Regions from separate parts of the Homo sapiens genome. Here regions 1, 2 and 3 are each linked to region 4. Evidence: fine-mapped expression QTL. A gene starts in region 4. Each other region holds a variant in brackets. All regions are shown on one strand. Distances are between the middles of the regions.

Region 1 (8,147 bases), 100 kb after region 4:
AGGTTCACTCTTGGTGTACATTCTGTGGGCTCTGATAAATACATAATGATATGTATCCACCATTACCATATCATACTGAATAGTTTCACTGGCCTAAAAATCCTCTGTGCTCTGCCTAGTCATCCTTCCCCCTCCCCTAACCCCTGGCAACCAATGATCTTTTCACTGTCTCCAGAGTTGCGCCTTTCCCAGAATGTCATGTAGTTGGAATCCTACAGTATGTAGCCTTTTCAGTTTGGCTTCTCTCCCTTAGTAGTATGCATTTAAGGTTACTCCATGTCTTTCTGTGGCTTGATAGCTCATTTCTTTTTAGCGATGAATAATATTCCACTGTCTGGATGTACCCCAGTTTATTTATCCATTCACCTCCTGAAGGACATCTTGGTTGCTTCCAAGTTTTGTCAATTTTGAATAAAGCTGCTGCAAACATTTGTGTGCAAGTTTTTGTGTGGACATAAGTTTTCAATTCATTTAGTTAAAAACCAAGGAGTGTGGTTGCTGGATCGCATGGTAAGAGTATGTTTAGTTTTGTAAGAAACTGCCAAACCATCTTCCAAAGTGGCTATACTATTTTGCATTCCCACCAGCAATGAATGAAAGTTCCTGTCACTCCACATCCTCACCAGCATTTGGTGTTATCAGTGTTTTGGATTTCCGCCATTCTAATAGGTATGTAGTGGCATCTCATTGTCATTTCAATTTGCATTTCCCTGATGACATATAATGCAGAGCCTTTTTGTATGTGCTTATTTGCCATCTGTATATCTTCTTTGATGGGGTGTCTGTTAAAGTCTTTGGACCATTTTTTAATCAGGTTGTTTGCTTTTTTATTGCTGAGTTTTAAGTGTTCTTTGTATATTTTGAATAACATTCCTTTATCAGATGTGTCTCTTGCAAATATTTTCTCCCAGTTTGTGACTTGTCTTCTCTTTCTTTAGACATTGTCTTTCACAGAGCAGAAGTTTTTAATTTTAATGAAAGCCAGCTTATCTGTTACTTATTTCACAGATCATGCTTTTATTGTGGTATCTAAAAAGTCATCACCATACTCAAGGTTATCTAGATTTTATTCTGTGTTACCTTCCAGGAGTTTTATAATTTTATATTTTACATTGAGATCTAGGATCCAATTTGAGTTAATTTTTTATGAAGAGTGGGAGGCCTCTCACTAGTTTCAGTTTCTTGCATGTGGGTGTCCAGTTTTCCAGCATCATTTGTTGAAAAGGCTATTAGATCAATGCTTTTGGATTTTAGATTATTCAAAAACCTAAAGAATTGAGGTTGTACAGTGAGGTCACTTGAGCAGAAAGGACATGAAGGCCCTCCCAAGAAGGAGCAGAAAAACGTGCCGTGACTTTGACTAGAGCCGGAGCTGAGAATGTCAGGTGGAGATTCATTGCTCCAGCAACTAACGTGGCAAAGGTGGACCCAGGACAGCTAGGGCCTCACCAGCTTCCTGGTGGCACACCTGCATCTGATAGAATCCCCAGTGGGACTGGATCTAATATGAATAAGCATTTGGAGGGTTGCAACTATAAGTTGAAACTCCATCATTCCTCTTCAGTTCAATGTGGGAGCGTAGACACCAGGAAGGAAAGGCAATCTTCTGATGGAGAGACAGGGTTATGATCAGTTTCAGCTTGAATAACACAGGAAGCGTGGGCTTATTTTTTAGCTTAAGCACGTGAAGCAAGTTATATGAATGAAACTATTATTAATTAATAATTATTATTTACAATATGACATTATTACCAGTAGCAGCCGACACTTATCAAGTACTACTATGTGTGGAGCACTGGACTATGCACGTTGTGTAGATTATCACATTTACTCTACAGAGCTAGGAAGTAGCAGCAACGACTCATTTGACAGCTGAGGAAATGAGACCCAAAGAGGTCAATTAAGTTTTCTATAGTCACTCTGCCAGCATGCAACAGGGCTCAGGTTCAAACTCAACTTGTCTCACTCCAGAGCCTGAGTTAATCACTATTCATGTTTGAAAATAGAGTTTCTTCTTCTTCTTCTTCTTCTTCTTCTTCTTCTTCTTCTTCTTCTTCTTCTTCTTCTTCTTCTTCTTCCTCTTCTTCTTCTTCTTCTTTTTGAAACAGAGTTTCGCTCTTATTGCCTAAGCAACCTCTGCCTCCTGGGTTCAAGCGATTCTCCTGCCTCAGCCTCCCGAGTAGCTGGGATTATAGGCATGCATCACCACGCCCAGCTAATTTTGTATTTTTTGTAGAGATGGGGTTTCTCCATGTTGGTCAGGCTGGTCTCAAACTCCCGACCTCAAGTGATCTGCCCACCTCAGCCTCCCAAAGTGCTAGGATTACAGGCATGAGCCACTGAGCCCGACCAAATTTCTTCTTTTAATAGCAGTGTTTCAGCTGGTTTCTGACTGCAAAGTTGGCTGGGTGTGTGTGGCTTCTCCCTCTGCCTGTAGAAACTCCATCATTCCTCTTTAGTTCAATGAGGGTTATCCAGGATTTGCTGGATACTACGTTCTCTGCCTCAATGCTCCCTTGCCAGATGGCCTTCCTTCAGCAGTATATTAGTCAAGTTGGGCTGCCAGAACAAAATACCATAGATTGGGTGGCCTAGACAACAGAAATTTATTTCCTGACAGTCTGGAGGCTGGAAAGCCAAGACGAAAGTCTGGCAAAGTTCGGATCCTGGTGAGGACTCTCCACCTGGCCTGCAGACAGCTGCCTTCTCTCTGGGTCCTCACATGGCAGGAGAGGGGAAGATTTCTTGCTCTTCCTCTTTTTATAAGGCCACAGTCCTATTAAATTAGGGTACCACCTCATTTAACCTTAATTATGTCCTAAAGATCTTATCTTAAGATATAGTCACATTGGGGGTTAGGGCTTTAACTTATGAATTTGGAGGGGACACAATTTAGTCCACAGCAAGCAGTTACTTTTTTTTTCTTTTTTCTTTTTTCTTTTTTTTTTTTTTTGAGACAGGGCCTCACTCTGTCACCCAGGCTACAGTGCAGTGGCATGATCGCGGCTCACTGTAGCCTTGACCTCCCCAGCTCAAGCAACCTTCCTGCCTCAGCCTTACAAGTAGCTGAGACTACAGGAGGGCACCACCATGCCCAGCTAATTTTTTTATTTTTTGTAGAAACAGAGTCTCCCTATGTTGCCCAGGCTGGTCTTGGACTCCTGAGCTCAAGCAATCCTCCTACCTCAGCCTCCCAAAGTGCCCAGGCCAGAGCACAGTAGTGTGATCTCGACTTACTGCTTGTGCCTCCTGGGCTCAATTGATCGTCCCACCTCAGCCTCCCAAAGTGCTGAGATTACAGGCAGGACCCACTGCACCTGGCCAATTTACTCTTTTTTTTTTTTTTTGAGACAGGGTCTCACTCTGTCACCCAGGCCAGAGTACAGTAGTGCAATCTCAACTTACTGCCTCTGCCTCCTGGGCTCAAGTGATCATCCCACCTCAGCCTTCTGAGTAGCGGAAAGTACAGGCACGTGCCACCATGCTTGTCTAATTTTTGTATTTTTTTAGAGATGGGGTTTTGTTATGTTGCCTAGACTAAGGTTATTCTTATATTCTTTAAAAGAATGAAATTTTCCATGAATGTCTACTCTCAGGTATCTCGATGACCACAGACTTTAGATCTTAGAAGCATCTTAGAGGAAATCAAGCCTAAATTCTTCTTTATTTTACAAATTAATACATGTGATTCCGAGACATTAGGGGATTTGCCTGGAGCCATACAGCTGGTTAATGGCAGAGCTGAAACTAGAACAAGGTCTTCTGATTCCAGTGGTGCAGTGGCACCATTGCAAGGTCTTGGAGGAACAATGATGGTGATGATGATTCAAGACCCTACTGTTTGACAGGCATAGTATGACTTATTTTATACACACCACCTTATTTATTCTTCACAATAGCCTGGTATAATGGGTACTATTATCCACCCATATAGATGAGGAAACAGGCTCAGAGAATGAGATACCTTACTCAAATTCACACAGCTAGTTGGTAAGGGGGGCCTGGATCCAAATTCTGTGCTCCTTTGATTTCACTATGCTCTATTTCCACCGAGGAAGTGGGTTCCCTGGTGGGGCCAGGGAGGTGGCTCTATGGCTATGAGCCAAGATTTTAGGCCAAGTCAAGGTCATGGACTCTTGGGATCAGCCCTGGGGCCAACAGGCTGCCAGAAGTGACAGAACGAAGAAAGGAAAGGAAGGAGAGAAACAGGAGACAAATCTTGATGGCTTCCCCATATTGCCATTGTCCTACTTGGGGAGTTCCACCTTCATCTGTTTTACCCTTTTTTTCCTTTACCTTCGAGCTCTACGTCTCTTTATCAGTAAACTAGCCTTGCAGACAAGTGCAAACTGTGCCAGCCCTTAGGCTGCAAAGGAAATGAAGTTGGCATTCTGTAGTCCTCACCTGGCATGAATCACACACAGCCCCAAGGGACCGGGACAAGGCTACATGTCAGACTGATGGACTATTGTCTGGAGCTTTGAGAGAGGAAAAAGGGAAGGCTGCTTGCAGGAGAAAGGTGAACAGGTTGGCCCCGGCCCAAGAATGACAGAGGCGCCTTGCTCCTGCCACCCGGCTCTGCTCCTCTGGCCCAGGAACAATAACAAGGCGCTGTCAGGAAGTGACACTAAAATGCCTTTCCCCTTATACCTCGTTCAGCCTCTGGCAAAAGGAGGTTCCCGGAGGGAATATTTTTAGTTTGACAAATGAAAGCCTGGGACCGAGGACAGGAGGGAT[A/T]AAGGGAGCTCTTCTCTGACACTCCTGGAGACGGGGAGATGATGAGTCAGATACAGAGGGCTTAGGCACGACTTCTCAAGACATTCCTCAGGCATGAGCACAAGCCAGCCGCTCGAATTCCTCCTGCAAGGCCCGCCACCCGGCAATCAGGGCGGAGGGGCCGGGCCAGAGGAGCAGCTCTGCTCTGTCTTCCTCTTGGCACATTGTTGGACAGCAGCTTTGGAAGATCAAAGCAGCCGCCTGTGTTGCTTTCCGGAACTGGGACTCAGGAGGCCTGGGTTCAAGTCCAGGCTTCACCATTTGCCGGCTGTGACATTAAGTGTCCTCATTTCTCCCTTTATGCCTCAGTTTCCTCATCACCAAATTGAGAGTATTATAACACCTTGGAATTATTATTATGAGGTTGTACATTTGGAAAAAAAAACCTTGAGAATGCAGTGTTTAAAAGCATTGGTTTTCTGTATTGCTCCCAGTACCCCATATGCAGATGGACTCAAAATCTCACACTGGTGGCCACGTGCAGTGGCTCACGCCTGTAATCCCAGCACTTTGGGAGGCAAAGGTGGGTGGATCACCTGAGGTCAGGAGTTCGAGACCAGTGTGGCCAACATGGTGAAACCCTGTCTCCACCAAAAATACAAAAATTAGCCAGGCATGATAAATAGGTGCACGCCTGTAATCCCAGCTACTGGGGAGGCTGAGGCACGAGAATAGCTTAAACCTGGGAGGCAGTGGTTGCAGTGAGCCGAGATTGCACCACGGCACCCCAGGCTGGGCAACAGAGCGAGATTTGGTCAAAAAAAAAATCTCACACTGGTAACAATAATAACCAGTACCTATTGAGTGCTTCTTACTTACCAGGCTTGTGCCAACTTCTCTCACATCCAACCCTCTCAATAGTTCTGTGAGGTAGATCTAATCGTTTCCACCTTCTAGACAAGTATACTGAGGCTCAGAGAGGTGGCATGGGCTGCCTAAGGTCACAGAGCTAACAGATGGTAGGCTGACATTAGACTCCAGCTCCCCCAACTCTGAAGCCCACTTTTCTTTTTTTTTTTTTTAATTATTATTATACTTTAAGTTTTAGGGTACATGTGCACAACGTGCAGGTTTGTTACATATGTATACATGTGCCATGTTGGTGTGCTGCACCCATTAACTCGTCATTTAGCATTAGGTATATCTCCTAATGTTATCCCTCCCCCCTCCCACCACCCCACAACAGTCCCCGGTGTGTGATGTTCCCCTTCCTGTGTCCGTGTGTTCTCATTGCTCAGTTTCCACCTATGAGTAAGAACATGCGGTGTTTGGTTTTTTGTCCTTGCAATAGTTTGCTGAGAATGATGGTTTCCAGCTTCATCCATGTCCCTACAAAGGACATGAACTCATCATTTTTTATGGAAGCCCACTTTTCAAATCCCTGTGCTGGGAACCCTCAGCCTGGGCCTGTACCCAGCAGGAGAACAAGATCAAGGCAGTGCGCTGGGCCAGGCACGAACTGGGGAGCCAGAGGGAGGGGAAGGAGCAGAACAGATAAAGAAATCGGAGGCGGAGCCAGGGTTCAGATGCAGAGCAGCAAGTTGAAGGAGCAGGGAAAGCACCAGGGGCTGGAGCCTGGAACCCTGGCAGCTGTCCACACTTGGTACAAACATGCTTACGGCAATATGGTGGATTGCTGGGGCAGGGAAGGGGGGGTGCACTTAAAAGTCAGAATCCGCTCATCTGATTGGAAGAGAGAATGAGGCAACTAACCATCTGTAGATAGGCTTATTTCTCACTTTTTAAACAGCTGGTTTGGGTGGGTGCTCCTAGGGACTCAGCGCAAAGTCATTGGGTGAATTCTACCCAAAATATGTAAAGCCATGATGAGCAACCCACCCCACAGGCCACACGTGGCCCACCTAGTGTCATTGGGTCCATGATTTAATTTGGGGATGAATAGTAAGAGGCCATCAACGTGTACTGCCTCTCAAAAAATTCTGATAGTGATGATATTTCTTGTTGTTAAATTCAGTGTTACTTCACTCATTAGCATCCTTCTCTTACGTAAGTGATCTAACTCTCGAGAAATCACTTTTAATCCCCTCGTAGGACTTGATACAGTTATTTTGTTTTAAGCAGAAAACAAAAGATGGCTCTTAAAGTCAATTATTGTCTTCTTTAATTCACCCTCAGGAAGGAAGGAGAGGGTGAGAAAGGGAGGAAGGAGGTAGGGGGGAAGAAGAGAGGCAGGCAGGCTACCACTGATGTTGAGTCTCAACATCCTCAAACTGCAGACCATGAACTCTTTTCTCTGTGCACTCATAGGAAGGTCATCCTACTGCCTCCTCGGCCAAGCTAAAACCCAAGAGACTTCTCACCATTCCTCTCTCTCCTTCTCCCAGGGATATCACCCCCAGCATCACTGCTAGGGCTTAGGATATCACTAGTATTCCCAACATCACTCAGTGTCTCCCTAGAAGACCTGTGAGGAGTCTCCTCTCAGACCTCAGTGTCAAGGCAAACAGCAAGTGGCTGCTTTTACCCGGTAGGTGATGTGAGCGAGCGTGTTAGAGGGTCATGTCCTCATGTTTGCGTTGGTCACTGAAAATGTTGAGAGTGGATTTTGCATCTTTCCTTTCAGGATCTCACAATGTGAATGTAGGTTCTCCTGCAAGTGTCCCCACTGACAAGACATGGGACCTTGGGCAAGTCATTTAAACTCTGTGAACCTTATCTGTAAAAGAGAGTTAATTACCACTTGCCTCATACGGCAGATGTGGAAGTGAAATTTAGATGATAGATAATAGATAGATAGATGATAGATAGATAGATAGATAGATAGATAGATAGATAGATAGATCACATGTGCCTAGCATATAATAGGTCATCAATAAATGATAGGTGGTGTTACTATTATCCACAGCAGCACCCTGACACACTATGTATACTAAATTTTCTTTTTTTTTTTTTTTTTTTTTTGAGATGGAGTCTCGCTCTGTCACCCACACTGGAGTGCAGTGGTGCCATCTTGGCTCACTGCAAGCTCCGTCTCCCGGATTCACACCATTCTCCTGCCTCAGCCTCCCAAGTAGCTGGGACTACAGGCGCCCGCCACCACGCCCAGCTAATTTTTTGTATTTTTGGTAGAGATGGGGTTTCACCGTGTTAGCAAGGATGGTCTCAATCTCCTGACCTAGTGATCCACCCACCTGGTCCTCCCAAAGTGCTGGGATTACAGGCGTGAGCCACTGTGCCCGACCACTAAATTTTCTTTTACTGCATTTCATTCAACTACCTTTCTTTTTCTATTTCACAGAATCTCTATCTTTTTACTTTTCATCTTATGGTAGTATGTGTTTGTGAGGTTTGTGGGAGGGAGTTGCAATCCACCTTAATATTGTGGAGCAGAGCAGGTCAAAAAAACCAAA
Region 2 (8,147 bases), 160 kb after region 4:
ATGCTCCCCAACACCCCCACCCTGCACCCCACATACCTACTTTCACCTGCCTCTGGCCTCCCTGCAGCCCTGATGTCAGGCACCCAGGAGTTTGTTTCGGAAGCCATGTATATTCCATATGCCCAATGTATACTCCCCTGTAGGACCAGGGGAAGCCCATCCAGCCTGCCAGCTTGTATGAGATAGTGAAATTGGAAAGACCACTATGTCTCCTACAAGCACTGCAGCCCTGGCAAGATCTGTTACCCTGAGCCTCAGCCTCCTCCTCTGCAAAACAGAGAAAGAAGGATTTGGTGGGTTGTAGGAAACAGAAGATGCAGGGTAGGGTGGGTTTGAAGAGAACTTCATGAAGGAACTGTTTATGGAGGTGGGAGCAGGGCTAAGGGACCCAATGTGGGATGCTGAGACGCCCAAGGACTAGATAATGTAAAGCTGTTACCTCCCTCAGGGCTGAGAGGCCACCAGCTCTTGCTGGTGACAGGGAGGGACCCACCGCTAAGAGCTGTCACTGTGAGAGACACAGAGCTGTGGCATAGACGGGGCAGAAAGGAAATACCCCAACCTCTCTTCTCGCCCTCTGATTTCCTAATAGTATCTCCCCTTGGACAAGCCCAAAAGGAAGCCAGAGGGCAAGCTAGCCCAGTTAATGTGGTCTATAAGGGTCCAGCCTCCCCTGCATAGAAGGAAGGGCAAAGCATGGATCTGGAAGGGGAACAGCCATCACACCCTCTCAAAGCATGTCCATTAAGTGAAACACTTGGCACAGTGCCTGCCCATAGTAAGCACTCAGTGCATTCTGGTTCCTGTTGTCATCATTGTCAATTGCATTGTTTGGCATGAAAACTGCCTCTTCCCTACAGCTCTGTTCTTCTGTTCCCTCTTCCTCCAGTCTAGGGAATTAACTTGGGTATCCCTTTGAGGCAGGAGAATAGGGTCTGGAGACAGGAAGCCTTCACTTCAGCCTCTGATTGGTCGTGGGCCAATTCTTCATTTGCATAGGGCTGATTTTTCATGGGCCCAGTCTTCATTTGCATAGGGTGTAACTTTACTTCAGCCTCCAATAGGGTGAAACCAATAAGAAATCTCTAAAAGGTACTTAAAGATTTTGCAACCCGTGCTCCTGAGCTGCTCGCTTGAGCCCGCTCCCACTCTGTGGAGTATATTTTCACATCAATAAATCTGTGCTTTTGTTGCTTCATTCTTTCGTTGCTTTGTTTGTGCATTTTGTCCAATTCCTTGTTCAATGCACCAAGAACCTGGATGACTCATAGTCAAGACCCTCCACTGGCAATACCTTGTCTTCTTAGGGAGGAAAAATAAAGATGACAACATTCAGCTCCATTCTAATGATCAAATCTCATCTCTGGTCTCACTTTACAGAGTTTATTAGGGTGCTAGGGACAAAGGGAGCTGAGACACCAAGTGCTCCTTTATCCTCACCAAAGCCTTACTTAGAACCCTTTGCTCAGAATTGATTTATTGATTCCATTTGATTTGTCAAGGAATCAAGGAAATCAATCAGCATTGACTGAGCGCCTATGCTGTCCCCTGCACATTCTATGCTCATACCCGATTCAGCTTAGTAGTTAAGGGCATTCACTTTGGAGCCAGGCCAATCTTAGGCCAGCTAGTAAACTTCTCTAGCCTCCGTTTCGTCCCTGCAAAAATAAGCCTGCTGCCATCCTGCACGCTGCTGTGAGGATAGTTGGAGAAGGCCTGGCACAGAGAAGACCTTCCATAACCTGTCGGTGCAGGTGTGACAGATGAAGAAATGAGCATCAGAATACACAAGGGATTTTCCCTGGACCCACACTAGCAAGCTGCTCTTGAACCCAGGTTTGCCTTGGCCCAAAGCCAGTGGCATTCTGCTCTGCACCCCACATTGTCTCTCCCAGTCGACTTATCCCCATCAGCAGATAGGTGCAGTGTTTCAAAGAAACCAAAAACATTTTCTTCCTTCTTGGTTTGAGAACATATTCTGTATTTTTATTTTTCTGGGAATTATTCTGTTGTTACGGACAGATGGGAACATGGGTGTGCAGCCATTGGCCTCTGTGGATGGCAGCTGTGGACGCAGCTCAGAAAAACATAGGGTAGCAGGAGGGAAGACTTCTGCTTCTTCAGAGAAGCACATCCAAGCAAGGAAACGGAGGGGCTGACCGCAGCCTGTTCTTTGGATTTTTCTTTTATTGATTTTTTAAGGTTTTTTTGTTTTTTGTTTTTGAGACGGACTCTGGCTCTGTCGCCCAGGCTGGAGTGCAGTGGCACAATCTCGGCTCACTGCAACCTCTGCCTCCCGGGTTCAAGCAATTCTCCCGCCTCAGCCTCCCAAGTAGCTGGGATTACAGGCACTTTCCACCACGCCTGGCTAATTTTTGTATTTTTAGTAGAGACGGGTTTTCACTATGTTGCCCAGACTGGTCTCGAACTCCTGACCTCAAGTGATCCACCAGCCTCAGCCTCCCAAAGTGCTGGGATTACAGGTGTGAGCCACCACACCCGGTCTGGTTTTTTCTCTTATTGAAATGGCCAGCCTTGGGTTTTGAGTCAGGACCCTGGGAACCCCAGCCCTATTCCTGGCCCACCAGTAACCCAAAGCTGCTCACTTCCCCAGGTCCCATCCTACAGATCTAGAAAGTAGAGCCTTTTCTCTCTTGAAAGGCTATAGGATGAAGTCAAGTCATCCAAAAGTCTGGGATCCAGGAAGTCCATGTTGTGGGTGATTCCAAAATGAGCTTTGGAGTCAGCTAGACTTGGGTGTGAGTCCTGAGGTGAACTTTATTCTATGTGACCTTGGGCAACTTTCTTCATCCTTCTGGTCCTCAGTTTCCCCATCGGTGAAACAGAGGTAATAAGGTATAACTCCCGGTGTCGTTAGGAGGGTGCAGTGAAGTCAGGGCTTGGGGGAGACTTCACACACTGCTGGGAGGTGCATTTAGGGACAGGGCCTCAGGGAGCAAAAGCCATCCTCTCCTGCCACTCAGGCCGGGGCTGCCAAGAGCAGCTTCCCAGGGCTCTTTAGGCCGAGGCCAGGCTCCTGTCTGCTGGCCTCAAGTCTGAGGGCCTTTCTTGCCTGGGTTTCCTGTTGTCCTCTTTTACTCTTTTAAAGAAAAGAAAAGAAGCATCCTTCCTCTGGAGACCTTTGTCCTGAAGCTAGCCGGGGAATGCTAGAGACAGTCAGTCCATGCTGAGTGTGTTGAGCCACTTTCTGGGTTTAAAAAAATATGTTATTGTTTACCTAACAGTTCTTCTGTGAGAAATGGGTGTCTGTTCCTTTAAACAGAGCACAGGGCAGACAGAGTGGCTCCGGGGTTGTTTGCAGCAGAGAGGAGGGGGAGGGAGAAGGAAGGCATCCTGTTGTTGAGTAGAAATGACAGAGGCCAATGGACAGACAGACAGACAGCAGAGGGAGAGGTCAGCAGAGACCCAAGCAGTGGAGCTCAGCTGTTTTTTTTTTTTTCTATTAAGAATTTGCTTTTTCAGAAAGAAAAAATTTACGGTTTTTTTTTTTCTTTTGGCCTGTATTTTGCCAGTCTAACCCAAGATACTACTGGTTTACTTAAGACCAGGGAATCCTTTTCACCTGAACTTTGCTGGGGGATGGCATTTCAATGTTAAAAAAAAAGGGGGGGGGTCCTGACAGCCTCAACTCATTAAACTTTGTGCAGAAGGTGTTGTGAGCTTTTCCTAAATTCAGCACTTGGGAATAGAAATCAGGAATAACCCATCTTAATAGTTACTGAATGGCCATGCTTTTCCTACATTATCTCCAATCATCCCAACATCCCTGCCAGAGAGGTTTATGCATCCCCATTTTACAGATATGGAAACTGAGGCTCAGGCACATTAAGAGCGTGCTCAAGCTTAGGAAGATACATAGGAGGCAAGTAGCGGGCTGAGGTTTCACCGTGAGTCTTTCCAACATGCCCCACTGCCTCCTTCGTGAACTCAACAACAGGTCCAGTGGGGCACGAAAGGGGAGAGGAGAGAGGCAGGGTGGACTTCCTGGCTGTGTGATTTGCCAGCCTCTAGTATAAATACTTCTAGCAACCCCTTGGCTCTTTAGGGTTCTCCAGCAACAAGGAACAAGCCCAAGATTGTAAACTCCCAAGAGTGGGTCTAATTCAACCACCACCATTGTCAGCAACGTTACAGAGCACTTTAAAAATTTAAGAGGCATTTTGTCAATTGCCACATCAGACTGTGTGACTCTCCTGCTGACATTTAGGAGGTGGCCCCCAAGCTCCTGCATGATTTGGTCTCTGCCTCCTCCAGTCCCATCTCCTTGCTCTCACCCTTGCTCACTATGCTGTCCATAAATCTCTCAGTTCCTCAAACATGATGCTACTGGCATCACCTAGGAGTGGGTTGGAAATTCAGGAGTTCTGCCCCACTCCAGAACTACTGAGACAGAGTCTGCCTTTTAATAAGACCCCCAGGTGCACAGTGAAGTGTGAGAAGCAGCACTCTTGCACATTCAGCTTTTCCACCTCGGGACCTTTGCACATGCAGCTCTCTCTGCCTAGAACACTCCTTTTTTTTTTTTTTTTTTTTTTTTTTTTGAGACAGAGTCTTGCTCTGTCGCCAGGCTGGAATGCAGTGGTGCAATCTCAGCTCACCGCAACATCCACCCTCCCGGGTTCAAGTGATTCTCCTGCCTCAGCCTCCCGAGTAGCTGGGACTACAGGCATGCGCCACTACGCCCAGCTAATTTTTTTGTATTTTTAGTAGAGACGGGGTTTCACCATGTTGGCCAGGATGGTTTCCATCTCTTGACCTCATGATCTGCCCGCCTCAGCCTCCCAAAGTGCTAGGATTACAGGCGTGAGCCACCGCGCCCAGCCACACTCCTTTTTTTAAATCTTGAACTCTGAGATTCATATGTCCTGAGCTCATAATGTCACTTCCTCTGAAAAGTCCCCCTTGACCTTCCAATAAAGTTATTTTTTCTTAAGAGTCCAGTTCTTTTCTTTCATAGCAC[C/G]TATTGCAGTGTGTAATTACATACCGACTTACTGAATGTCTGTCTCCATGAAGGCTGAGGCCATGACTCACTTGCTTACCACGGACATAGTAGAAGCTGCACAGACACATGCTGAAGGAATAAGCATGGTGCTGTTTCTATGCAGCATCAAAAGAGAAGTTCACAGACAGTGTGCACTGGGTATCTCTAGGCATTTGGTCTCTGCATGAGGCATTTGGTCTCTACAGGCATTTTTATTCAGTTTCACCAAATGTTCACTGAGTGCTATTATGTATCTGGAGGTGGAGTCATATGTGTAAGGAGGCCTGGTGTGACAAAGTGGATCCTAGAATTTGGTGTAGCGACTCAGTTGTCTTGTTCAGTGGACAAGGTTGGGGGCTGAATGAAATAGCCCAGGAAGTGTACATTTCTGGTGATTACAGGAACGAACCCTCAGAAGGTGGGAAAGGAAATTAACATTTCCTACCCCCCACATCTGGGCCAGGCACCTACACGGTTAGCAAGTGTCAAAGAGGGATTTCAAATCCACTAGAATAGCATATGAATTGCTTAACTAAAACCTATGCCTTTTGCCTTTTGTTTTAAGTAAAATTAAGAATGCACACAGTTAAAAAATAAGATAAATATAGAAGTGTTTCATCCCTTGCCACCCTTAGTTCCATACTCCAAAGATAACTACTTTTTATCTCTTTTATTTGTTTCTTCTGGTAGCTGATTTCAAATCTCTGAGTATTTTTATTTACCTGTTTCTTGATTTGTTAATTTTATATAGTGGTTATTAATTCTTTCTTATGACATCAGGAAGCAAATTTTACTGTTTTACATCACTCTCACCTCCTTTATTTGCCCCAAATAATTATATCACTATTATATTTGCAAATATAAGTTGATATGGTTTGGCTGTGTCCCCACCCAAATCTCAACTTGAATTATATCTCCCAGAATTCCCACATATTGTGGGAGGGACCCGGGGGGAGGGGGGTAATTGAATCATAGGGGCCAGTCTTCTTCCCGTCCTATTTTTGTGATAGTGAATAAGTCTCATGAGATCTGATGGGTTTATCAGGGATTTCCGCTTTTGCTTCTTCCTCATTTTCTTTTGCTGCTGCCATGTAAGAAGTGCCTTTCACCCCCCGCCATGACTCTAAGGCCTCCCTAGCCATGTGGAACTATAAGTCCAATTAAACCTCTTTTTCCTCCCAGTCTCAGGTATGTCTTTATCAGCAGCGTGAAAACTGACTAATACAGTAAATTGGTACCTATAGAGCGGGGCATTGCTGAAAAGATACCCGGAAATGTGGCAGCAACTTTGGAACTGGGTAACAGGCAGAGGTTGGAACAGTTTGGAGGGCTCAGAAGAAGACAGGAAAACGTGGGAAAGTTTGGAACTTCCTAGAGACTTGTTGAACGGCTTTGACCGAAAGCCTGATAGTGAAATGGACAATAAGGTTTAGGCTGAGGTAGTCTCAGATGGAGATGAGGAACTTATTGGGAACTGGAATAAAGGTGACTCTTGTTATGTTTTAGCAAAGAGACTGGTGGCATTTTGCCCCTACCCTGGAGATTTGTGGGAATTTGAACTTGAGAAAGATGATTTAGGGTATCTGGCAGAAGAAATTTCTAAACAGCAAAGCATTCAAGAGGTGACTTGGGTATTATTAAAGGCATTCCATTTTATAAGGCAAGCAGAGTGTAAAAGTTTAGAAAATTTGCAGCCTGACTATGTTATAGAAAAGAAAAAACCATTTTCTGGGGAGAAATTCAAGCCACCTGCAGAAATTTGTATAAGTAGCAAGGAGCCTAATGTTAATCCCCAAGACCACAGGGAAAATGTCTCCAGGCCCTGTCAGAGACCTTCACAGCAGCCCCCTCCCATCACAGGCCCAGAGGCCTAGGAGGAAAACATGGTTTTGTGGGCCAGGCCCAAGGTTCCCGTGCTGTGTGCAGCCTAGGGACTTGGTGCCCTGTGTCCTAGCTGTCTAGCCACGGCTGAAAGGGGCCAACCTTCAGCTCAGGCTGTGGCTTCGGAGGGTGGAAGCCCCAAGCCTTGGCAGCTTCCATGTGGTGATGAGCCTGCAGGTGCACAGAAGTCAAGAATTGAGGTTTGGGAATCTCCACCTAGATTTCAGAAGATGTATGGAAACGCCCGGATACCCAGGCAAAAGTTTGCTGCAGGGGCAGGGCCCTCACGGAGAACCTTGCTAGGGCAGTGCAGAAGGGAAATGTGGAGTCAGAGCCCCCACAGATAGTTTCTACTGTGGCACTGCCTAGTGGAGCTGTGAGAAGAGGGCCACCGTCCTCCAGACCCCAGAATGGTAAATCCACTGACAGCTTGCACCATGTGCCTGGAAAAGCCGCAGACACTCAACACCAGCCTGTGAGAGCAGCTGGGACGGAGGCTGTAACCTGCAAAGCCACAGGAGCGGAGCTGCCCAAGACCATGGGAACCTACCTTTTGCATCAGCGTGACCTGGATGTGAGACCTGGAGTCAAAGGAGATCATTTTGAAGCTTTAAAACTTGACTGCCCCGCTGGATTTCAGGCTTGCATGGGCCCTGTATGTAATCCCTTTGTTTTGGCCAATTTCTCCCATTTGGAACAGCTGTATTTATTCAATTCCTATACCCCCATTTTATCTAGGAAGTAACTAGCTTGCTTTTGATTTTACAGCTCATAGGCAGAAGGGACTTGCCTTGTCTCAGATGAGACTTTGGACTGTGGACTTTTGGGTTAATGCTGAAATGAGTTAAGACTTTGGGGGACTGTTGTGAAGGCATGATAAGTTTTAAAATGTGTGGACATGGGCCAGGTGCAGTGGCTCACGCCTGTAATCCCAGCACTTTGGGAGGCCAAGGCGGGCGGATCATGAGGTCAGGAGATCGAGACCATCCTAGCTAACACGGTGAAACCCTGTCTCTACTAAAAATACAAAAAATTAGCCAGGCGTAGTGGCGGGCACCTGTAGTTCCAGCTACTTGGGAGGCTGAAGCGGGATAGTAGCGTGAACCCGGGAGGTGGAGCTTGCAGTGAGCCGAGATCGCGCCACTGCACTCCAGGCTGGGTGACAGAGTGAGACTCTGTCTCAAAAAAAAAAAAAAAAAAGTAAGGACATGAGATTTGGAGGGTGCAGGGGCAGAATGATGTGGTTTGGCTGTGTTCTTACCCA
Region 3 (8,147 bases), 24 kb after region 4:
CTGATTAGTGATATGTCCCTAGGGGAGAGTTAAATATCATCTCTATGCCTCAGTTTTCTCATTTGTGAAAGGAAAGAAATAATAATGTCCAGTTCATGGGTATAAGACTCTTTACCTCACTTTCAGTTTCTTCAACTAAAAAAATGAGAAAATAACAGTAATTCTACTATGCCAGACTAGAGGCAAGGGGTAGACCCTACTTAATCTTTTTTTTTTTTTTTTTTTTTTTTTTGAGACGGAGTCTCGCTCTGTCGCCCAGGCTGGAGTGCAGTGGTGCGATCTCGGCTCACTACAAGCTCTGCTTCCTGGGTTCACGACATTCTCCTGCTTCAGCCTCCCGAGGAGCTGGGACTACAGGCGCCCGCCACCATGCCTGGCTAATTTTTTGTATTTTTAGTAGAGATGGGGTTTCACCGTGTTAGCCAGGATGGTCTTGATCTCCTGACCTCAGGTGATCCTCCCACATCTGCCTCCCAAAGTGCTGGGATTTCAGATGTGAGCCACAGCGTCCAGCCTTTAAATGTCTTTTATGCTTTGACTACTACTAAGACTTCTGTGAAGAATCTAATAATAATAATAATCTAATAATAATCATTTCTTGAGTACCAGCCATATGCCTAAAACTTAACCCTATGAAGCAAGGTTTATTATTCCTGTTATGTAGAAGAGAAGATTGAGAGTCACAGAAGTTAATTTGCTCTAATAAATAATTTGCAGAATGAATGAATGAATGAATGAACAAGGTACGTCCTCAAAACCAGTGACGATCTGGAGAACAAAGCTTTTGTCTTTTAAGATCTTACCCGGCAGAATCTAGTATAGAATTGATTGCATAATGACATCAGACACAGACTTGGACAAAGTTACAGCCAAGATGTCAAATGAGTTTTCTGAGGCCTCCATCCAGCAGACACACATCATGAGCAGCCTAAGGGAGAACACATCAGGCCAGATTTGAATCTTGCCATTTCCAAATGCAGAGGCTGAGTGCTAACAGTTCTGTGAGTTCCAGATCTGCCAAGTAACAGCTTGATTTTTCATCTCTTTGGGGACACTTGATTCCTTGGATGATCTGATGAGCCAGAGCTGAAGTTTATTTTCAAGTTGAAATCTCACCACTGGTTTCTATTTCTTATGAAAATTGGATTCTCAAAGATCAGTTCCCCTTAACACCTGTGATTCTCAGTTTTCCATAAGCCAGATTTCAAAAAATAAAATACGGTCCTCAGAGTTCAATGACTCTTCTCATACTCTTTACAAATCTTTTGCCTTCTCTGCCACTTGGCACAATATCAAACAAGCCAAGGGAAAGAATGAAGGGGTGGGCACAGAAGCTTGGGGCACTGGGGAAAGCCAGCGTTCTTATTTCACCCCAGTGCTCCACAGACATTTAATGGAGGTCTATCTGGTAAGGTTGCAGCCATTGTCTCATTTTCTGGAAGAGGAAACTGCAGCTTGAAGAGGCCTGTCAACATGATTAAGATACGGCCCCTACCCTGAAAGGGCCCCCAATTCAATAGAAGTGACAGACATAGAAGCCACAACCTATGACCCAATAAGAGTGGGTACAAAGTACTCAAGGTGTGTGGAGGACAGCACAATTATCTTAAAAAGGAAGGCCTCCCTTTGGGAAGCATTTTCAAGTGCAGTGAAGTCATGCCTGACAATGTCATTTGGCTTTGCCTCAAATCAGTTTTTTCATGATAATATGATTATATGCGTCCTGATTTCTTCAACAAATATGTAAAAAGACCCTGTGCTTGAAGATTTTGCTGTGTGATTTTAGACTAATGATTTCATACTTTTTTGCTTTTTGTTTTTTTGGGACAGAGTCTTGCTCTGTTTGCCCAGGCTGAGTACAACGGTGTGATCTCAGCCCACTGCAACCTCCACCTCTCAGGTTCAAGCAATTACCTTGCCTTAGCCTCTCGAGTAGCTGGGATTACAAGTGCCCACCACCACATCTGGCTATTTTTTGTATTTTCAGTAGAGACGGGATTTCACCATGTTGGCCAGGCTGGTGTCGAACTCCTGACCTCAGGTGATCTGCCCGCCTTGCCTCCCAAAGTGCTGAGATTACAGGCGTGAGCCACTTCGCCCCACCGATTTCATATGTTTAAGTTTCAGTCTCTTTATCAGCAGAATAGGAATAATATCATAATCCTTATTAGGATTATTCAAATAATTATTATTTCTCTAGCTACCGCCATACAGTTACTGTGGAACTCTAATGGTGAAATTTGCATCTAAAAGCACTGAATCAGCAGCAATGTCCTATTTATTTGTGAAGGATTGTATTGTTGCCACTGTTGAAGACATCCCTTTATTTCTGAGTGACTAGACATTCTATATTGATTCTTCAGTAAATTAAATCTTGTCCCAAATACTGATCACACCAAGAAGGTCTCCTTTTCCTTCACATGCTTTGGATAAACAGAATTTCTCAACCTTGACACTCTTGACATTTTGGGCCAGACAATTGTTTGTTGGAAGGCAAGGAGCAGGGGCTGTCCTGTATCTTGCAGGGTGTTTAGCAGAATTCCTGGCCTCTAACTCCTAGATGCCCATACCCACCCCTTAGTTGTAACAGCTACAATGTTTCTGGACATTGCTACATGTCCATGGGATTGGAATGCAAAATTGCAAAATTACCTTGTTGAGGATCACATCAGGATCACAACCTACCCGTAGGAGGTATGCCGGGCTGGGGTTTCTGCTCACATTTCACAGATGAAAAAACCTGAGACCTAGAACAGGAAGGAATCCATCCAAGTTCACAAAAGGGCTTGAGAAACAAGAGTCCCAACTTGGCTTTCCAGAACACCTATGTATAGAACTGCAGTGCCCTCTGCTAAGGACCTGAAGGGAAGGAGTAAGTCAGAGGGACCAAAGACTGGCCCTGCTCTTTCCCAGTCCTGCCTGAAACCCTCCCAGCCCCCTCTCCACCATTGAGTGGCAGCCCCCCAGGAATGCCTGCTCCTCTTCCTCTCCCTCCCTCTGTCCTAACCTTGCTCCTTCCCTGTGCTTTGGGAGGGGGCTGCCCACTGAATGCTGGAATGGGCGTGGAACCACCATGCAGGAAGGACAACAAATGACAGTGAGGATAAAGCCCAGACTTAGCCCTCTCCAACTTTCCAACTTCAGGGGGATATGCTGTCACCAAGAAGCAAACATTTGGGGGAAAAAAAATCCTCAAAGGAGATTCCTGTGTTGCCATGTAAGGAAAGGTCTTGGCCAGCTCTGGTCAACCTGGGAGAGTTGGGGTGGGGGTGAGCACAGAGAAGAGTATTGCGGTTCACTCCTAATCTCTGCCCCCAGATCTCCCCACTCCCCCTTTGCATCTTTCTTGGAAGGGCCCCTCAGAATCCACCAAAATAACCCCTCCCTCCTCCTTCACCTCCCTGTCCCATTCGCCTTGGCTGTCCCCCCTGCAGAAGGCCGGCATGCAGCCTGGTGCACGGGTTAGGGGTGTGTAACATTTTGTCTGAATAGGCCCCTATGTTCCCATAATTTATAGTGGTAAGTAATCTTATTTGCAAAGCAAGCCCTTACAGTTATAAAAAACAAGTTAATTGACTTGCATAAAAATCAAACATGTAAAAGTTTTCCATCTTAACACAAACAGCACACTGAGCCCATTTGTACAATAGCTATGATGCAGTGCGGCCCGCGTCTGGACTACCTAGGACCCGGCCTCTTTCATAACCCAAAATGGAATCTTAAACCCTGACAAGGCCACATACCAATGGGAGTTACTGAATTTAGAGTCAGTCACTCAACTAATTATACGACGTTTTATTTTTTTTCTTGTGTCAATAAACAAACTTGGGTCTGACTTCTGACACTCAGACCTAGAAGCCAATTAAGAGGCGTTCCCAATATATTACAGGGTCTACAAACAAGGATGGCTTTTCTTGGAAAAGTGAACATCATGTTTCTTTTAATG[T/A]GTGTGAAAATATATGAGTTTCTTAATCACTGGCAACTTAGATGGAGTCCAAGACAGGGAAATCACTGACTCCTGACTCTGGAATGAACAGGGGCTAGATTCTTGATGGGGTTTTTGCGATGGGATTCTCTGGTGAGTGACTGCAGGGAAGACAGCATTCAGGTGTGGCATGACAGAGTTGGTGGCCAGAGGCTGCTTCAGAACCCCAAGAAAGGCAGGGAAGAAGCTTAGTGGTGGCAGGGTCTTCTGCAGAAAACAATGAGACAATACCCTAGTGACGTGGAGGGAAAATGGTAAACCTGCAGAGGCATCTGTTGCAAAGGGTGTCTTACAGTGCCACTCAATTATCCCCAAACCAAGAGCCCATTTCACGGTAAGGGGAAGGGGGAGGAAAATTAATATTTATCAAGTTCCAATGATGTGCTGGGTGCCTTTGTTTTCTGTATCCTATTCAAGCCTCAGGTGATCTGCCAAAAAGATATAATTGTTCCTGTTATACAGATGAGAAAATGGAAGCCTAGAGAAGTGGAATGACTTGGTCAAGGCCACTCAGCAAGTTCATGGCAGAGCCAAGGTCAGGGCTCATTCTATTCAGTCCTGTTCCTTGCACATTGCTCTGGGGGGAGCAGGCATAGTCATGGCTGGAGCTCTTAGCAACTCAGGATCAGGTGTGATCTGATGTGTCCACTCTTTCTGGAAAATGGCTCCACCTACCTATCAATATCTATTGAATCCCTACTATGTGCCAGGCACCATGTGAGGAGCTATACATCCCAGGACATGCAACACTGTTTCAGGGGAGACAGACTAGAAAATCAACAATAATAAGAATTTGATATATGTTCTGATGGACGCATTCAGCTGGACGGTGGGGGTTAAAGTGGAGGTGAGGTCAGGAAATACTTCTAAGAGTGAGTGAGCTTTCATCTATGACTTAAAATCCCAAGGTGGACAAGCAGGGAAAGAGCATCCAGGGGCAAGGACCAGCATGGGCAAAGGCACGAAGTGGGAGAGCAGAGTGAGCATGGCCCTTCGGGATCCCTTCATGGCTGGGAGAGCCAGCTCTTGGGGACAGGAGGAAGACTCGGGCCAAGGCTAGGCCTAAGACCAGGAGGGCTCACTGAGACAGGCAGGGGGACTTAGGGGAGTATTGTTTTCTGAGAAAGACATTGCTGCCCATACTTGGGGAGGGACAGACTGTTGACAATAATCAAACCTGAACTGAAAAGATAGGATGGCACCCGGTACCAGGGCTCAGGACCAATGCAGCACAGAAATGGTTAGGAGTAGGGTTTCTGGAGCAAGTCTGCCTGCACCTGAATGTTGGCTTAGTGTGACCCTGGGAAAGAGACATGACTTCTCCATGCCTCAGTTTCTCCCCTTCAAAATAGGATAAGAAGAGTACCTAGTACACAGGTTTGTTGGGAGATCTAAGTAAGCTTATGCAAGTAAAACTCTTGGAACACTTTGTGGCGTATAATAAGAGCCTAATACATGTAAGCTGCTGAAGAGTTCTCATTTATCTTTCCCTCCACCTTATAGGCTTTTCCACCTTGGACAAGTCTCTAATCCTCCCAGTAATAGGGGATCTGCGGGCTCTTGGTTCACCATAGGTGCTCAATGAATAACAGCTGTCATCATTGCTTCCACCATCATTATCACTATCTCTGAAATAACAATGTTTTGCCTTCCCAGGGGAACAAGTGTCACAGCCACCATCTCCTCACCACGAACTGTCCGGACAGGCTGACATGCCACCCAGGCAGGCAAGACAAATGGACTTGCCACCTACACGGAGCACACGTGCACACCAGGGGCACGTAGCCCAACTCGTTAGCACAACAGGGCTCCCTTCTTTTTGGCACTGCTTCTCTGCTCTGTATGTGCTTTGCTCAGAGTGGAGGTCCCCGTTATTTATGTTTGGAAAATGCATTCAGGGCAGTTCCCAGAAGCACTTACAGAGCTCTTATTTAATTGCTACTTTATAAACTCACTGCTCCGAAGAGTGAGGGATTGATGGCCCGGCCTGGCACCTGGAGTAGCCTTGCTGCAAATGCTTTTCCGAGAATGGTCTGGGAGCCGTCCTCCAAGGAGGCCAAGGCCCAATGCAGCCCTGGCCTACGTCCAACTCTGGAGGGCACTGTAGGACTCGTCACCCTAATCCCCAGCTTTGGGATGGCAGCGGTTGCCAGTGTGGTCACACATACACACACATACACACACACAGACACACACAAGAAGACCCCTCATCAGTTCAAGACCAAGAATGTGCAGGGGTAGGAGAGGCCTGTCACTCACCGTTCACCCTCCCTTGCCAGAGACCTGCAAAACCCCAGCCATGAGGACATCCCAGGCCCCAGATCTGGGCAGGGTGGGGACACTTTTTTCAGGTCCCACCAAGCCCATCTCCCATTTGCCTCATGCTTATGCGTTGGGGTCCAGCAGGACTGGGCTGGTGTCCCCAGCTCTCCCATGTTCAGAGCAAGTTATTTAATCTCACTGAGCCTTGGTTTTCTCACTTATAAAATGTGGTTTATAGATTCCATTTCTCAGCATCATTGAGGGAATGAAATGAAATTATTATGGTGCCATTCCTGGCATGTAGAAGTAGAAGATCAATAAATGTTATTTATTGGATTTCTACAGCCACAGAAATAAAGGATCAAGTATCTTTCTTGAAGGTCTGAGATTCATCAAGGCTAAACCTCCCATCCAGATAAAATATGGGACTTCATAATGATCCCTTTTATTTATGCAGTCACTGTATGTCATACTATCATGCTTTATGGTTCCCAAAAAGCATTTTACAAGCCTTGTCTCAAATGACCTTCACTAGCCATCAGGGTTTTGATTATGCACCTCATTTTACAGATGAGGATCTAAGGCATGGATCCTACTGGTCAATCAACCAATTTCTGCCTCCAAATCTTGCTTGCATTCCTTTGCACCACATTACCTAGCCCACTCTCAGGTAGACCAAGGCCCATTTGTGCCTCCAAGATGGCTCTCAGTGATCCCCCCTTCTGGGTTCATATGCTAGTACAGTCTTCTCCCATAGCGAAGAGGACAGACCTGAATAGCCAAAAGGATATTGTGGAAGTGACAGCATGTGACCTCCAAGGCGAGATCATAACAGACATCGCTACTTCTACCTTGCTCTCTCGATCACTCCCCATGGGGGAAGCCTGTTGGTACGACACTCAAGTAGCCCTATGGAGAGGTTCTTGTGGTGAGACACTGAGGCTTTCTGCCTAACACCAAAATAAATTTGCCAGCCACAGGACCGAGCCATCTTGGAAGCAGACTCTCCAGCCAAAAACCAAAACTTCCACCTAATCCTGACTACAACCTCACAAGAGATCCCCAAGCTAAAACCATCCAACTCTTACATACCTACCTACTTGCATCCTACACAATACATGCATTTATTTCAGACTACACCAGTGCTATAATTTGTTTTGTTTTGTTTTTTGAGACAGATTCTCGCTCTGTCACCCAGGCTGGAGTGCAGTGTCATGATCTCAGCTCACTGCAACCTCCACCTCCCAGGTTCAAGTGATTCTCATGGCTCAGCCTCCCAAGTAGCTGGGATTACAGGCATGTGCCACCACACCCAGTTAATTTTTGTATTTTTAGTAGAGATGGTGTTTCATCATGGTGGCCAGGCTGGTCTCAAACTCCTGGCCTCAAGTGATCCACCCGCCTCGGCCTCCCAAAGTGCTGGGATTACAGGCATGAGCCACTGTGCCCGGCCCAATACTGTAATTATTATACATATTTACTCTTTTGTTGGATACTTTTATTCTACCATTTTTCTGTAGGGTGTGTTTGTTCACTTTCCAGATAAAGGCAACACTATCACTTCTGTGTGTGTGTAGCCCCCTCAAAGGAGGATTCTAATAACCAGCCTTTTCAAAAAGCAAGTGGTTAGTGTATATTTTAACATTTCAAGACCAACACTTCTTGATCTTTGGCTTGCTTTTCACCTCCCCTGTCCATGTCTTCAGCTCAGACCCGAATTTTTCCCCACTGGACTATAGCAACAGCTTCCTAGCTGGTTTCCTGACTTCCAGTTGCACCTTTCTGTTTCTTCCACGTTAGTGTCATGCAAATACCATCTCATTTTTTTAAAACATCTGCTTTAAAAACCCAGTCACTCCACAGAAGGAAGCCAAGCTCTACAGCATGCCTTACAAGACTT
Region 4 (8,147 bases):
TTCTGAGAGGTGTGTATCATCCCCATCTTACAGATGAGAGAATGGAAACGGGGTGGTTAAGATGACTGTTTTAAAAAGGTAACACAGCCGGTGAGGGGCACAGCCAGAATTCCAACTTAAATCCACCTGGTCCAAAAGTCGTGGTGCTTCCCTGTCTGGGACATTTCCTCTTCCACCTCTCATATCCCCAGATTTTCTGGCTGTCCCTCATACAAGTGTGGTTCCCTTCTTCATGTAGATGTATATCCTATCTCTCAAATCTCTTCCTCTCCATACTCAGATAAATACATCCTTCTTCATGAAGCTCAGCTAAAATTCAGCTCTACCATTAAGGTCTTAGTACTTCCTAGTCTCTGATACCAACATCCCCAGGTTCACTCAGTACCTAAGCGCATGGGCTACTCCAGTGTGGCACAGAGTTAGGAGTTGCAAGCTTCCCAAATGTGGCATTTCAGAACTTCACATTGAAGAGGGGTAGATATGGTTTGAAAACAGTATAGCTAACATAATTGCTTGGGCTTCTTTTTGGTTATAATAATGTATTTTAAAAACTTTAAACAACATTCAAAGAAGAGCATGATATTGTTATATCTATCAAAAGGGGACATGGATTTTAAAAAGAAAAGGTTATAAAAAACTAGTCCACACTGTTATGGGAATTTATAAATTTTTCTGATGTCCTTTTACTATTTCTTCTTGTGGTTGTCATATCTCCCCTAACTGTACTACAAAAGTCTTGCAGGATGGAGACTGACTATGAATTTTTTCTTCTTTGTATTTTTCCTGATGGTCTTCACCCAGTAGATACTCCATAAACAGGTCACCCAATCTGTTCTCAAGCATGATTTGTTTCTGGTTCCTGAGGGACCTTTTTTGCTGTTCAGTCAAATCTGCTCAGCCCAACTAAATAAAGGATCTGGGTTGGTTTTCAAGCAAAAATAGGTGATTTGAAGGAGAGAAGAGGGGGATTAAAAGAACAGAAACCAGCATGATATAATGTCATTAATTGGAACCTACCATCTCAGGAGGGCTGAGCTAGAGTTTAGCCCTTGAACTCCACTAAATAATTTTCTTAGTTAATTCACATCAGTGACAAAATTGCTCTGGAACATGTAATCTTCATAAGGAAACAAACTAGTGCTGAATCCCCATAAAGCACATAAAAAAGAAAGAGGTATGCTTAGGAGCCTACTATGTGCTAGGTTCTTTTTTTGGAGGGGGAGGAGTTGGGGAGGTGGGAACAGAGTCTCACTCTGTTATTCAGGCTGGAGTACAGTGGTGCAATCTCAACTCACTGCAACCTTTGCCTCCCAGGTTCAAGTGATTCTCGTGCCTCGGCCTCCCAAGTACTTGGGATTACAGGAGCCTGCCACCACGCCCAGCTAATTTTTTTTTTTTTTTTTTTTTTTTGTATTTTTAGTAGAGACAGGGTTTCAGCATGTTGGGCAGGCTGGTTTCCAACTCCTGACCTCAAGTGATCCGCCTGCCTCAGCCTCCCAAAGTGCTGGTATTACAGGCATGAGCCACCGTGCCCGGCCTGTACCAGGTTCTAATCACACATTATTTCAAAGTCAGCCCAATTCAAACAACCAATGGGTTGTTGTTAACTCCAGTATCCATCAAAGCAAGATCTCCTTTTGAGCAGTCCCTTGATAGTCTAATTCTAGTTGTCTAGACTTTAAAATTGAGGGAAACGCTTTCAGCGGAAACTGCCCACCCCTTTTAATAGAGGTTTTGCAGAAAGACTGTAGTATGCAACAAAGTGTTTTCTTCCTTAGACAGATGATAAACTTTGGGAGTTGGGGTGGGGCAGGTTGAAAGGAAAAACCAGATCTTTGGGGAAAGAAAGTTAAGCGATTTAGGTTGTCACAATGGGACCTCTTAACTCCCACTCCATGGAAGACTGGCAAATACTTGAGTCATCCACTCCAAGTCTCTCTTCTCCAGCTTTTTCCAGATTCCAATCACATTCACCACAAAGAAAACTGAGTTTGCATTTTAAAGCTGAGATTGAGTTCCTCGTCCAAGGGGAAATTAACCGGAGGTGTCCCTTCAGTACCCATCTCCCATCAAAGAGAAACTGCTTCTGAACAAGAGAAAGCATCGTGGAGGTTTATTTAAAATCACAGAAAGGTAGGGCTGGAAGAGAAATCTATTAATAGTTACGTCACTAATGCGAAAAGTGAGAAAAATGACTTGTCCGAGTTATATCAGGGTGGACCCCGGGCAAGACTCAGGTGCCTCTGCTGTCAGCTCACCTTTCAAGTTTCTGGTCCCCACTCGCACCCACTGAGACCAGAGACCGATTTACCTGAGGCAGAAGGTGCTGCACGCATTCTTGTGAAATTTGAGGGGACCGAGAAGGAATCTCAGGAAGTTTGTTTACACTGGGGGCCTGGAGACCTTCGGGAAAATAGCCAGAACCAAAACGGACCAGTCAGCAGACGCAGACACACACAAAGTGACAGGGACACAGAAGCAGAAGCTGAACTGGGCAGAGCGGGCAGCGGCCGACCCACCTCGCACGGCCGCCCCCGCCAGCGCCAGGTGCAGGGCTCATAGCGGGCCAGCAGAGGGCGCGCCGCCCCCAGGGAGCCGAGCGGCGGCCGCGCGGAGCCGGGCGGGCTAGGGGAGCCGCAGGCGAGCCAGTCGCGCCCCTGAGGCTAGGCCACTCAGGGTGCAGGACCCGGCCAAGGAGGAGGAGGATGGTGAGGAGCGGAACCCCCTCGTGGGCCCGAGGGGCAGACAGACAGGAGTGCTTCCTAAGAATTACATCACGCTGCGCAACGCTGCGGCTCTCGGACTCCCTGGTGCAAAGGGGGGTGGGGTAGGGGCTGTGTGTGTGTGTGTGTGTGTGTGTGTATATATGTGTGTTGGGGGGAGGGGACTTAGAGCAAGAGCCCGGGAGAGAAGAAGACGCGCTCGGGGAAAACGCTCCATGCACATGGAGAAATTTCTTGCTCCGAACTGCATGCACCGAGAAACGAGCCCCCAGCACTTCCCCGCTGCTCCCCTCCCAGTGCAAAGCACCCAGCTAGTGAGAAACCCTCCAGCCCCACCTCAAGCACCGCCCCCCCTCCCCAAACACCGGCTCTGCACCCTCCAGCCCGGCTCCAGCGCCGCCGCGAGCTTTCCCCAGGACTGGCCCTGGCGGGGCGCCTAGAGCCCCAGTTGCATTGCTCCAGGAGAAAGGAGGGGGGCGGTGCATTTTGCAGGAGGAGGAGAAGGGGGGTGGGTGGTGGGGGAGAGAGAAAATTGCGCGGAGACCTGCCAAGCGCCACCGCCGCCGCCACCGCCGCTGCCGCCGCCGCCGCCGCCGCCTGTGAGCTCCGGCGGGCAGCCGGACTGTCGGCTTCCCGGGGCATCTGGGTCCGGCGGGGCACAGCCCTGGGCGCTGCCGAAGCCGCCGCCGCCGCCTCCGCGGCGAGTACAGGCGGCTTCCCCCGGAGCCTGTGCAGCTCCAGCTCCTCGGGGGTGGAGAAGTGGGGGGTGGGGTTGTTGTTTGGGGGGAAGAAGGGGGAGGGGGCAACGCCGAGAGAGTCAGTGGTTTCCATGGTGATGGAGCTGAAAGTGCAGGAAATTTAAAGGCTTGGACCCTGCGAGACAGACAAACCGGTGCCAACGTGCGCGGACGCCGCCGCCGCCGCCGCCGCTGGAGTCCGCCGGGCAGAGCCGGCCGCGGAGCCCGGAGCAGGCGGAGGGAAGTGCCCCTAGAACCAGCTCAGCCAGCGGCGCTTGCACAGAGCGGCCGGACGAAGAGCAGCGAGAGGAGGAGGGGAGAGCGGCTCGTCCACGCGCCCTGCGCCGCCGCCGGCCCGGGAAGGCAGCGAGGAGCCGGCGCCTCCCGCGCCCCGCGGTCGCCCTGGAGTAATTTCGGATGCCCAGCCGCGGCCGCCTTCCCCAGTAGACCCGGGAGAGGAGTTGCGGCCAACTTGTGTGCCTTTCTTCCGCCCCGGTGGGAGCCGGCGCTGCGCGAAGGGCTCTCCCGGCGGCTCATGCTGCCGGCCCTGCGCCTGCCCAGCCTCGGGTGAGCCGCCTCCGGAGAGACGGGGGAGCGCGGCGGCGCCGCGGGCTCGGCGTGCTCTCCTCCGGGGACGCGGGACGAAGCAGCAGCCCCGGGCGCGCGCCAGAGGCATGGAGCGCTGCCCCAGCCTAGGGGTCACCCTCTACGCCCTGGTGGTGGTCCTGGGGCTGCGGGCGACACCGGCCGGCGGCCAGCACTATCTCCACATCCGCCCGGCACCCAGCGACAACCTGCCCCTGGTGGACCTCATCGAACACCCAGACCCTATCTTTGACCCCAAGGAAAAGGATCTGAACGAGACGCTGCTGCGCTCGCTGCTCGGGGGCCACTACGACCCAGGCTTCATGGCCACCTCGCCCCCCGAGGACCGGCCCGGCGGGGGCGGGGGTGCAGCTGGGGGCGCGGAGGACCTGGCGGAGCTGGACCAGCTGCTGCGGCAGCGGCCGTCGGGGGCCATGCCGAGCGAGATCAAAGGGCTAGAGTTCTCCGAGGGCTTGGCCCAGGGCAAGAAGCAGCGCCTAAGCAAGAAGCTGCGGAGGAAGTTACAGATGTGGCTGTGGTCGCAGACATTCTGCCCCGTGCTGTACGCGTGGAACGACCTGGGCAGCCGCTTTTGGCCGCGCTACGTGAAGGTGGGCAGCTGCTTCAGTAAGCGCTCGTGCTCCGTGCCCGAGGGCATGGTGTGCAAGCCGTCCAAGTCCGTGCACCTCACGGTGCTGCGGTGGCGCTGTCAGCGGCGCGGGGGCCAGCGCTGCGGCTGGATTCCCATCCAGTACCCCATCATTTCCGAGTGCAAGTGCTCGTGCTAGAACTCGGGGGCCCCCTGCCCGCACCCGGACACTTGATCGATCCCCACCGACGCCCCCTGCACCGCCTCCAACCAGTTCCACCACCCTCTAGCGAGGGTTTTCAATGAACTTTTTTTTTTTTTTTTTTTTTTTTTTCTGGGCTACAGAGACCTAGCTTTCTGGTTCCTGTAATGCACTGTTTAACTGTGTAGGAATGTATATGTGTGTGTATATACGGTCCCAGTTTTAATTTACTTATTAAAAGGTCAGTATTATACGTTAAAAGTTACCGGCTTCTACTGTATTTTTAAAAAAAAGTAAGCAAAAGAAAAAAAAAAGAACAGAGAAAAGAGAGACTTATTCTGGTTGTTGCTAATAATGTTAACCTGCTATTTATATTCCAGTGCCCTTCGCATGGCGAAGCAGGGGGGAAAAGTTATTTTTTTCTTGAAGTACAAAGAGACGGGGGAACTTTTGTAGAGGACTTTTTAAAAGCTATTTTCCATTCTTCGGAAAGTGTTTTGGTTTTCCTTGGACCTCGAAGAAGCTATAGAGTTCAATGTTATTTTACAGTTATTGTAAATATAGAGAACAAATGGAATGACTAATCATTGTAAATTAAGAGTATCTGCTATTTATTCTTTATAATATCCCGTGTAGTAAATGAGAAAGAAGTGCAGAGCAGGATTAAAGAAAACCACTAAAACCGACTGCGCTCCACACTGATTTTCTGTGTTGGTGATTGATGGGGGTGGGAGGGCGTGGGAGGGGGCGGGTAGGGGATGCTGCTGTGCCTCCTACCCCGTTGGGGAAGGGGCTCATCCCCTCGGACTCCCCTCCTGTGGTATGATGGAGGTGACTTAGTTTTTTGAGGGCGTTGGGGGGGGGGGCGATATTCTCTAACCCCTCACTAAAACATCACGTGGCCTCCGCCTAGTCTCCTAGCTTTTCCCCCTATGTCACCAAAGCTCGGGCCTGTAGTGACCTCGACACCCAGCCGGCCCCCTGGAGCTGACCCCAGGCTGGGCCGAGGGGCGGGGGGAGGGTGGGCGGCCGCTTTGTCCTGCCTGACAGGCCCTTCACAATGGGGACACGTGTCTTTCACACCTACCCTGGGGGCGGAGTGCCGCTGAAACTTGACCCCCGAGGAATGGGGAGGGGGGGAGATCAGAGCGCGCCCACCCAGATCCCGCCACCCCTCCCGCCTCGTACCCCCCACCTCAATATCCAGCCCATGTTAACCCTTTGCATGCCCGGAAGCTACGGTGGTACGAACTGAGGCAATCCCTTGGAATCAACAAGGCTCACAGCCTCCGGGATCTTGCAGGTCCGAGCCCCGAAATCCCAGGCCCTCGGCCGGAGGTGCTGGGGATATCAGGGAGATTTGACACTGGCCTCCCCTCTCCCCGGGGACCTAAGGAAGACTAAGGGCCATGGTTTCGGAGGGGTCCGAATCTGGGTGAAAATCACCACCTCTGGCATCTGCTTTTGGGAAGAGAGTATGCCTGTGCTCGGGCACTTTCTCCCCTTGAGGGGTGGGGAGGAGGGAGAAATCGGAACCGGAATCTTTGCGCTTTAAGATTAGATAGGGGCAGAAGGCACGTAACCCATTAAAGGGACGTGCAAAACATCACTCCCACCCCACCCCTTAAAAAGCCAACTCCTTGGGACCGACGCCTGACTCTCGCATGCGTCCCTCCGCCTCAGTCCCCAGTGGCGCCCGTCCTCACAGCTCCACGTGGGCCAGCCTCCTGACACTGCTCAGCGCTCTCTTTATTTATCTTGGACTCCAAAGTCGCTCTCCTTTGCTCCCTCCCCACCTCCCTGCCACCTCTCCGCGCCTCCCTCCCGGCGTTCCTTCCACCCCACCCCCCACCCCCCCCAACCCCCCAAGTCCGGAGTCCCGGCGAATCTATGCTAATTATTTCAAACCTGCGCCTGGTCCCCAGCGCAGTCTCAATGCCCCCGGCCCCGCCCGCCCTGTCCCTCCAGCCCGGCGCTTTCTTCCCTCCCGACGCAGCCTCGATGGCTCCTCATTTCAATAGCCTGGCCCCGGAGCCGAGCCCCCTCCCCGGCGCTGCCTCCGTCAGCCGTGGGACAGACGTTAGGGTATTCATTAACTGAGAGCCGAGGAATAACGGCATTATTCCCCCCAGAGAGGGCACCCTGCCCCCGCGACTATCTGAGGCTTCATTGTAAAAGGATTAAAAGTTAAAGACCTCCATCTTATGATTCTTTCATTTAATCTTCCTGGCGCCTGGGAGACATGCTCGATGGATGATGGCTTTTAAAATATTCCTAATGTCGGCTACCTTAAGACTCCAAGCTGGGCAAACAAACGTAATTTATTTCCAGAAGAAAGGGGATATTGAGATGTTTAAGTTTATGAACTGCCGTCCCCATGTATATTTGTTAAGTTCTGACAAATACCCAAATAACGTTAAAATCAGCCATTCATCACTTATGAATTTATGCAAAACTTTCTGTGCCCCGGGCCAATATTTTTTTAGACAGAGTTTCACTTGCGAGGGGCGGAGGTGGTGGGGAGTGGGGAAGAGGAGGGGTCTTATGCGAGGGGGGCGAAAGCAAGAATTTTCATGCCTGGTAAACACGCGAATTATGCGAAGAGAGTTATTCCCAGCTGGGCGGGCAGCCAAAACTCGGAGAGCGCGCCGAGGCCAGCGCCCCCACCCCCACGTTGGCAATGTCATTGGATTACAATGCGAGGTCTTCCCCTCCGCGACGCCCCCTCCTCCCTCCGCGGGCCCGCCCGCCCGCGCCCCTCCTCCCCACCCCTGCCCACTTGGAAAACCCGCCCGCAGCCGGCGAGCTTCTCGGCTTTCAGAGCAGGAGCCGGTGTGAGCTGGGAGGACGCGGGTTGCAGACGTGACCGGCGACAGACAGACCACCGGATGCACAGAACCAGAGAGCAGGCCCGAAGCCGCTGCGGCCGCGGGAGAGGACCCAGCGGGACCCAGGCAGTCCCAGAAGCTAACGAAGGAAGTGCTGGTCCTGGAACATTGTGCCTAATGCGCAGCTGGTTACCTCTCCATTATTATTAATGCCGATAATACTAATAATAGCATCAATGCGGAAAGGAGGAGAGAGCTCTGGGTAAAGAGGCAAGAAAACTGTCCTCTTCGGTCATCCAGTGCCTATCTCCTGTAAGGAGGACAATTGATCTAGTGACTTCTGCGGTTCTGACACCTGTGTCTATGAATTTATGCGGCTGCTGGGGGGCTGTGTCTCCCCAGAGTGGAGATTTATAACTATTACAGATACATACGTGTCAACTTTTTCAAATACTGGAAGAGAATGGCAAGGTTTCCACCAAC

Direction of the effects. Alleles are on the strand shown, and positions count from the first base shown. SD is a standard deviation of normalised expression in the study named. Not every link is listed here.
As copies of T replace A in region 1, the expression in esophagus muscle of the gene that starts at base 3,610 in region 4 goes up (moderate effect, 0.46 SD a copy in GTEx).
For the expression in fibroblasts of the gene that starts at base 3,610 in region 4, allele C in region 2 goes with a lower level than allele G (small effect, 0.23 SD a copy in GTEx).

Evidence for each region. PIP is the estimated chance that this variant, and not a neighbour inherited with it, causes the effect.
Region 1: its variant is fine-mapped to the expression of NOG in esophagus muscle (GTEx, PIP 0.94).
Region 2: its variant is fine-mapped to the expression of NOG in fibroblasts (GTEx, PIP 0.99).
Region 3: its variant is fine-mapped to the expression of NOG in whole blood (TOPMed, PIP above 0.99). The same link has a PIP of 0.9 or more in blood mononuclear cells.

Annotation. Positions count from the first base shown.
Region 1 is chr17:56,694,857-56,703,003 of GRCh38, forward strand. No RefSeq gene overlaps it. Among named protein-coding and RNA genes, the nearest start is that of NOG, 110 kb to the left of the region's middle. RefSeq lists enhancers at 3,867-4,843, 3,868-5,067, 4,844-5,820. The variant A/T (reference allele first, on the strand shown) is at 4,738.
Region 2 is chr17:56,751,699-56,759,845 of GRCh38, forward strand. No RefSeq gene overlaps it. Among named protein-coding and RNA genes, the nearest start is that of C17orf67, 78 kb to the right of the region's middle. The variant C/G (reference allele first, on the strand shown) is at 4,982.
Region 3 is chr17:56,613,773-56,621,919 of GRCh38, forward strand. No RefSeq gene overlaps it. Among named protein-coding and RNA genes, the nearest start is that of NOG, 24 kb to the left of the region's middle. The variant T/A (reference allele first, on the strand shown) is at 3,947.
Region 4 is chr17:56,590,090-56,598,236 of GRCh38, forward strand. NOG (noggin) reads left to right here and starts at 3,610. Exons shown (of 1, transcript NM_005450.6): 1 at 3,610-5,522. The coding sequence starts at 4,135. The coding sequence ends at 4,833. RefSeq lists silencers at 2,463-2,672, 5,785-5,985.